Linked DNA regions of Homo sapiens: region 2 is reported to be linked to region 1. The links are microRNA targets in miRTarBase. Many come from high-throughput screens and were not tested one by one. Region 1 holds a microRNA gene; the other region holds the end of a gene's coding sequence.
The links. Region 1 holds the annotated microRNA hsa-miR-548h-3p (CAAAAACCGCAAUUACUUUUGCA, at 2,636-2,658, opposite strand). A microRNA usually pairs through its seed, bases 2 to 8, with sites in the 3' UTR of a target mRNA and lowers its output. Matches are read on the target gene's strand: a 7mer-m8 pairs with bases 2 to 8, a 7mer-A1 pairs with bases 2 to 7 and ends in A, and an 8mer does both.

Region 1 (4,150 bases):
TCGAGACCATCCTGGCTAACACAGTGAAACCCCGTCTCTACTAAAAATACAAAAAATTAGCCTGGCATGGTGGCAGGTGCCTGTAGTCCCAGCTACTCGTGAGGCTGAGGCAGGAGAATGGCGTGAACCTGGGAGGTGGAGCTTGCAGTGAGCCAAGATTGCACCACTGCACTCCAGACTGGGCGACAGAGCGAGACTCTGTCTCAAAAAAAAAGGATCATTTCAGTAGCTGGGAACAGAATAGAGCATAGGTGAACAAAAACAGAAAAAGTGGGGCTGAGTTAGGAGAACATACGTCAGCTTCCTCTGGGTAGCTGTGGAGGTGATGAGAAGCAGTTCAACTTGAGCTGTATTTTTCAAGGAAATGTCAACAGGACTTGCTGAGGACTTAGATGTGGGTTAGAAAATAAGAAAGATAGCACAGATGACTCCAAAGTTTTTGGCCTGAGCAGCTGGAAGAATGGTGTAACTGTTCAATAATAGGAAGCCAAGTGAAGCAGAAATAGATTGGGGAAAGGATTGGAATAGAATAAAGAATTCTAGGGCAGCACAATGGCTCATGCCTGTAATCCCAGCACTTTGGGAGATTGAGGAGGGCAGATGGCTTGAGGAGTCCGAGACTAGCCTGCTCAACATGGCAAGACTCCATCTCTACTAAAAATACAATAGTTAGCCGGGCATGGTGGTGCACACCTGTAATCCCAGCTGCTGAAGTGGCTGAGGCAAGAGAATCGCGTGAGCCCGGGAAGTGGACGCTGCAGTGACCCGAGATTGCGCCACTGCACTCCAGCCTAGATGACAGAGTAAGACCCTGTATCAAAAAAAAAGAAGAAAAAAAAAAGGAGTTCTGTTTTTGATATGTTAAGTTTGAGATGTCTATTGTGTCCAAGTGGAGATGTTCAGGGTGAAATTGTATGGATTGTGTTTTTCATAGCATAGGGATTCTAGAGGACTTAATAGTAAAAGAAGCAGTAGGAAGATCTCAGAGGAGAGGATGAGACTAGAAGGATTCAGTTGGTCAGTGCAACTTATGTCTCACGTTGTGTCTGAGGATGACAAGAGGTGATGCATTGTGGGTAAAGCTGACTATATGGTTATTAAAAGAAAAAAAAAAGTCCAAGAAGTCCTAGTAAATGGAAAAATTTAGGTCTCCCTGGATGAAGTCAGCCATAGCCTGGGTTGATTGTTCTGCTGAAGAGAGCTTAGTCAGGTGGAGAGTGTGGTAAAGGGATAGCCATTACCCCCAAGGCTTCAATACAAGTGGAAAATGCAACAGCTTTAATCCTAAGATTCTTCCTAGATTCACAATATGTGTGTGCCCTGGTCCCAACCCCTCCCTACTCCCCTCATTTGCCCCCAGGCTTCGTGAAAGTGATAGCAGAATCAGCCATGCTGATTCCTCAGCCCAGTGCACTGGATGGAAGTTAATGCCCAAAACTGATTTATCTTCCTTGAGGCTGGGAAAAGGGATGAGTTGGGAAAGCGAACAACTAGAGGTGTTTATGAAGGAGGAACATCTGGGATGCCCGTGGTGGTAACGTGGAGTGCTGCAAAGAGGACTATAGAGAAGGAAGGCAAAATGCTGTTTAGAATCCACAAACGTGGAATCAGTGCATCTCATTTGCTGGCTCTTACCATAAAATGAGCATCAGTATCCCTGCCCTGAGCTTGGGTAGCTTATCAGAGAAGATCGCTGACACTTTTGGAGCCCATCTGAATAGCTCCCTCTGAAGCCATCCAACTTGACCATGATCTGGACTTCCTACTAGACCAGTATTTTGCCTTTGCCTGATCTTTCAACTTCAGCTTCTGCATTTTCTTCTAATTAGCCCTTTCTTACCCCACCAGCACTGCCAAAATGGAGACTTCCTGTCCCAGTCTCAGACCTTGTGGAATTCACACCTCCCCTTTCCATCACCACCTCCCAACCCTGCCACAATATGGACTACCTGTTGTTACGTTGAGAAGATTAAGACTACACAGGCAGTTAGTTTAGGGAACACCTTCTACAGTTGGTGAAATCTATTTTTAAGATCATGAAATGTCATACTACTGCCATATATACTAATTTCCTCCTCCTCCTTTCTCTAAAACTGTCACTCAAGATAAAAGTCAGCTGGGCCGGGCAGGGTGGCTTACGCCTATAACCCCAGGATCTGGGGAGGCCAAGGCTGGCGGATCACCTGAGGTCAGGAGTTTGAGACCAGCCTGGCCAACATGGCAAAACCCCATCTCTACTAAAAATACAAAAATTAGTCAGGCATGGTGGTGCACACCTGTAGTCCCAGCTACTCGAGAGGCTGAGGCTGGAGAATCGCTTGAACCTGGGAGGTGGAGGTTGCAGTGAGCCAAGATCACGCCATTGCACTGTAGCCTGGGCGACAAGAGTGAAACTCCATCTCAAAAAAAAAAAAGGGCAACTGGTGAATGCTGGGAATATGAATATCAGGGCTTGTGCTTGTTATTTTGGGGAATGACAGAAGACAGACCCAGGCAGTGTTTTTTCCCTGCATTCATCCTTTTTTCCTTTTTCTTTATTTCCCATTTATTTTATTTAAGTGTGATTTAGTTTGTACAACATTTATAAGAGGAATGGAAAATAGACAAGAAGTGATGATAGCAAGTATTAGGTTGGTGCAAAAGTAATTGCGGTTTTTGTCATTAATGAAACGTAAAGTAATTAAAGTAATGACAAAAACCGCGATTACTTTTGCACCAACCTAATAGCTTTGGAAATGGAACAACGAAGGATCACAAGTTTGGCTTCAAGTTTTCTGTGGTACACTTGCCACAAAAAGCAGGGGGCAGAGGAAACTTTTGGAGGCGATGGATATGTTTATCATTTTGATTGTGATGATATCATGGGTGTATATGTATACCCAAGCTCATCAAATTGTACACATGAAATACATGTGGGGTTTTTCTGTCTATCAATTTATACTTTGATAAAGCTATTAAAAAGAAAAAGGCAGAAATGAGCTCAAATTTTAAACTGTCTTTATTCTTTCATTGAACAAGCATTTATGAAGGGCCCGCCATGTGCCAGCTCTGTGCGAGATATTGATGTGACTCTGGGAAGGCAAGCATTGTCCCCAACCCTGCACATCTATCAGGGAAAGCAGAAGCAATTGCCATCACGTGCTAGGACAGGGAAGTTTGGCACCATGGAAACGTGTAGCAGGGGCAATCCTGGTGTGGGGGTGGGTCAGGATTGTAATTCCCAAATTGGAGACTGACTCACACAGCTATCAGTGACAGGCAGAACAACCTCCACAGACTTCAGCCAGAGGGGGGAATTAGCCATTTTCTTTTATATCACCGTTTTATTCACACATCAGCATCCCCTCATTCCCATCCACTTATTCCTGAAAGCAGGCCCTTTTTGAGGCTCCAAACATAGTAATTAAACAAAGGGGATTCTAGAAGGTGGACAAAGCATTAGAGACAGCTTCATTGTATATAAATGCCAAATTTTCTGCATCAGTAAGGTTGCAGCTGTGACAAGAATTAGGCTGCTTTCTAGGTCATATATTTTCTAAAGCACTAGGCAAAAAAAATATTAACACATGAGGGGAAAAGAAATAAATAGACTCAATTGTTTTAAAACCTTATGAGTAGACCATTTTTTAATAATACAATGAATACTGCTTATTGAATAAACAAAGAAATTATTTGTTAATATAAAATAGAGCCACATTCTCTGGTTAAATCGTGAATGTGTAAAAAATTAAGTTCTCAATTTAATCTGTTCTGCACAAGATTCTGAATGAAAGATTAATTGGATATAATGACACTGATATTATTTTCTGTATAATAATAATTCTATACATGTTTGGCAATTTATAGTTGTAATTCTATGAATCTGAATTTTTAAAAGTTAACTACAAATAAACAGTCTCTGTAAATGAGATATATGGGGTAGGAGACTGCTTACATGGGTATGGCTAAAGCATAAATTTGAAATAATATCTGATTCATATCAGAATTTATCAGCCTGGGCTGGATAATGTTTAGTCACAGATGAGACACAGATAAGAAAATTAACACCAGATTGGTAATTAAAAGTGCTTCCTGGGTATGAATGACACCTCTGAATGCAGCATGAAATAATTCCTTTTGTATTCTGCTCCACGTTTTCTTTCATCTTGTG
Region 2 (4,000 bases), not on the chromosome of region 1:
GATCTGATTGAAATAAATGCTATCTGGAGACCCGAAAAACCAAAAATTTGCTTTGAAGTCCGGTTACTGTTCAACTTTCCCGCTAAGCACGTGCTGGGCTGGCAATACCGATACGACCCAGGGACCCAGCCACACACCCTCCCCCCGGGACCAGGAAGAGATTAGAATCTGGTTTGCTCTTTCTCTAGGCTCTCACCAGGGCACTTGGGCGCAGCCACAAATGCTTCAGTTCCAAAATGCAAAGGATGAAGAAATCAGAAAAGTCCCCAATGCCACCGGCCACCTTCAGGGAGAGCCTGGCTGTCCAGACAAGCCGCTGGTCAGGTGCATAGCAGTGGGAAATGCTGTGTGTTGAGGGCATCTTCATAGGTCCAGCTGGCCGCTCCACATGGACACCCAACAACCAGACCTTCCGTCAAGCTCAACGGAACCCCCCCAGTGACTCGGAGGAGGCTCGGGCTCCTGTCACACAGACCCTCCGTTGAACTCGATTGAACCCCTCCAGTGACTCAGAGGAGGCTCAGGCTCCTGTCACACAGATCCTCCGTTGAGCTCAATTGAACCCCTCCAGTGACTCAGAGGAGGCTCAGGCTCCTGTCACACAGAGTCTGGCACTTTCCTGTAAGCATCAACATCAGCAGAACACGATCATGGCTCAGTCTCTGAGCAGAATTCTGATGATCCTGCAACCCCAACTGGACTCTTCTAAACTAGCAAGCTCTCTGTCCCAGGAGCACTTGGAGAGGCTGCCCTGCTCCACCTCACTTCTGAACGGCCGGCTGGAGCCACGCAGATGCACACTGGTTTGGACAAATGCACATGCACTCCCCAACTCCTCTCACCTCTGGGTCCTCCCCTCCAGCCTTAGGCCCAGGGCTCACTCCTTAGTGCCCCCCACACCTCATGAGCAGGCCTAGTTCATTGTCTCCAAGACATTCTGCAAAGGCCTCACTACCCCCGAAGGTCTAAGGAGTTCCTACTGACTTAGGGTCTACAGGGTTCAAAATGCTCTGAGCAGACTGAGAAACCAAAGACCAGTTCCAAATAAGACTTATCCTGAGGAGCACCAGGAGTGCCCATCATCAATTCACAAAATCCTAAACCTCCAAATGGAGGGGACATGACATGTCACCTTACCCTCGATGAACGCCCTCTACACAAATACCCTAGCCAGTCTTGACTCCTTTTGACATGACCCTGTTGTGGGAGCTGCAAAGACCATCATGGATCCCACAAACAGGCATGGCGCTGGGCAAGACGGCCATGGATCCCACAGACAGGGATGGCACCAGGCAGCCCGTGGTGCAAGGCAGGAAAGGGGAGGACAAAGCAGGGCAGGGATTAGAGAGTGCAGAGGCCCAGCTTTAGGAAGATGGTTGAAGCCTGCAAAGAGTTAACGGCATTCCACTGGGTCTGGGAGGATAAACGTGGTTTGGATAGAGACACAGGGACAGCATGAGCGAAGGGCCCATAAGGGAAGGACCTCGGTATTTAACAGAAGCATTGGACAGAGAAGTCTGGTGAAACGGACGGAAGGCTAGAGAGGCAGCTGGGATTAACTCACGGAGGCCTGGACTGTCCCGGCCAGTGGGTAAGACTGTGCTCTTTAGATGGGCGCTGGAGGTGAAGTGTCCTGTGTTTAGTGAAATCCCTCTCTCAATAGCCCGGATGGAGGATAAGAGGAGCCCTGCAGGGAGGACAATGAACCAGGAAGCAGCCGACAGGGAATGGAATGGAGGCAGAGGATCGACAGGGAATGGAATGGAGGCAGAGGATCGGCAGCCTGGGGGAGGAATGGCAGGGCCTCCTCCCTGATCAGCCAGGCCAGGGACAGAGTGGCACATAAAGGGCACATGAGCCTGGGTAACAAGAAGAAGGCTGCTGGTGGTCAGAGACACTGGGCTATCAGGGGAATTCTAACAGTTGGGAGAAAATGCCCAGCTCGTCGTGGGGAAGCTTGAGAGGTAACATTTGAGAGGCCAGGAAGCATTAGCTCGTGGCAGCTGCACTTTTCTCTGCCTTTGATCATCGCCCGTCTGGGCACCTGGCTGACACTGACTAGAAGGAGAAAGGGCCAGGGCCAGGAGGCATTTGCTCCCCCTCCCATGGCCAGAGGCAGCCAGCATCCTAATGAATGAGGGTGAGTGAAGGAAGTATTTGGAATTTCACAGAGAGGCCCATTTCCTTCTGCACATATGAAGCACCTGCTAGTGCTGTGTACTAGACACTGGAAAGCTGAATTTCCAGGAGGAGGAGATGCTCGTAGAAACAATAAACGAACAACATGCAGCGGGAGAGCCACAGACAGGACACATAAGGTCTAGAAGAAGCCTCAGTGTGAACCAAAGGGGAAGGGGAGGGGGAGGAAGAGGAAGGGAAGGGGAAGGAAGCAGCTTAGGGTTAAAGGACAAAAGAGATCCCAAGCTCCAGGCCCACAGGCCAGGGAGGTCCCAGGAGTGAGGGGGTGGGGGGGGGGGTCCAGGGTGGGCGGGGCAGGTCCAGGAAGCGAGGGTGGTGGGGGGGGGCAGGGAAGGCGGTTGGCGGGGGTGGGGAGGGCACGGGAGTGGGGGAAGGGTGGGGGGGTGCCAAGGAGGGTAGGAAAGGGGCCAGGAAGGGGTCTGGGGAGGGGTGGGGGGGGCAGGGGTAGGGCCGGGGAGGGTGGGTTGTGGGAGAGGATGAGCGGGAGGCGGGAAGGGGCTGGGCAAGGTGGTGCTAGTAATGGGGGAGGGCTGGGGAGGGCCTGGGGACCTGAGTGCAGTGGACAAGGAAGAAGCCTTGGAGATGGGCAGGCGGCAGTGCTGCTAGGAAGAACAAGGGAGAGAGGAGACCAGGTGCCAAGGGACAAGACGATGACTGTGAGATGGGCAAATATCACCCAACCCGTGCCCGGCACCATTTTCCATGTTAACAGACACATGTAGCATCTTCACCTGAAATGCTCTCGAAGGTCTGCGAAGGCCACAGCACACTAAAGCACTGATGTGATGAAGCGTGTGTGTGTGTCTATGTGAGTACTTAGCACAACAGTACTTGGGCAGGAGGTAAGTCCATTAAATAACCGTCTTTATTTAGAAACGCAGACCCCACACGTTTCAGGAATCCTGAGCCCCAGTCTGGCTTTGTCACCCCCTGACTCTGTGAGGTTGAGTCAGCTGACTTGTCAGGACCCCTTTGTAAAATGTATGAGGTTTTGATCCAAGTAGAGTTAGAAGTTTAAAAGTTCGCCCATTTGTAAAATTATGGGGCTCAACTACATTTTTTAAGCAGGCTTCCAATTCTTAAAAACAACTACAGCAATAAAACTAGGGTGAGTCTATGATTTCAGGCAAATTCTAATTGGCTGATTGTACGTTAGACCTTTTTCTTTTGCATCTAAAATTAAATGAACTGATACCTTCATGTATACACTTGATCTCTGTTAAGATGGTGGACGAAAAATTTGTTAGAATAGAAAAAAAATACATGAAGAGTGAAATAACATGATCTCTTCAGAATGGCCAAATTGTGCTGAGATGGTGATGAGGAGCCGCTCTATGTCCTGAGGCATCTTCTAAGAAAATTCTCTGGCTGGTGCTTTCTGAGTTCATCCTCCTCGGACCTCACTGCTCTCACATTTTTGTTTGTATTTCTTCATCCTCTGCCTGGTTGACCTGTCCTGGAGCGTGGGGTCTGATCGGGTTCTTGGACTCCACGCACTCCACAAGCCCATACGCCACCATGGTCAGGCTCAGGACCCCCAGCAGAATGTAGAGCTTGACGTGCACGCACAAAAACATGCTGTACCCGAAGGCAATGACGAAGCCCAGGGCCTCCCACAGGCGGTAATTGGCGAAGGCAGCTTCCTTGCTCTTCTCAAACAGAACGCCGTAGAGAGCTGCAGAGGAGAGAGCGGAGTGAGAGCTCTGCCATGGGCCCCACAGTGACCCTGTTTGTGAAAAGAGCACAGCTTTCCCACTGCCCCATTTTCTCAACTAAATCAAGACATTTTTCTTTTTTCACA

Region 2: the mRNA of UNC93A is a reported target of hsa-miR-548h-3p. Seed matches in the 3' UTR shown: 7mer-A1 at 3,280-3,286.

Annotation. Positions count from the first base shown.
Region 1 is chr8:27,046,236-27,050,385 of GRCh38, forward strand. MIR548H4 (microRNA 548h-4) reads right to left here and starts at 2,728; the gene lies at 2,618-2,728.
Region 2 is chr6:167,315,061-167,319,060 of GRCh38, reverse strand. UNC93A (unc-93 homolog A) reads right to left here. Exons shown (of 8, transcript NM_018974.4): 8 at 3,047-3,874. The coding sequence ends at 3,609. Among named protein-coding and RNA genes, the nearest start is that of TTLL2, 8.0 kb to the left of the region's middle. RefSeq lists an enhancer at 1,596-2,391.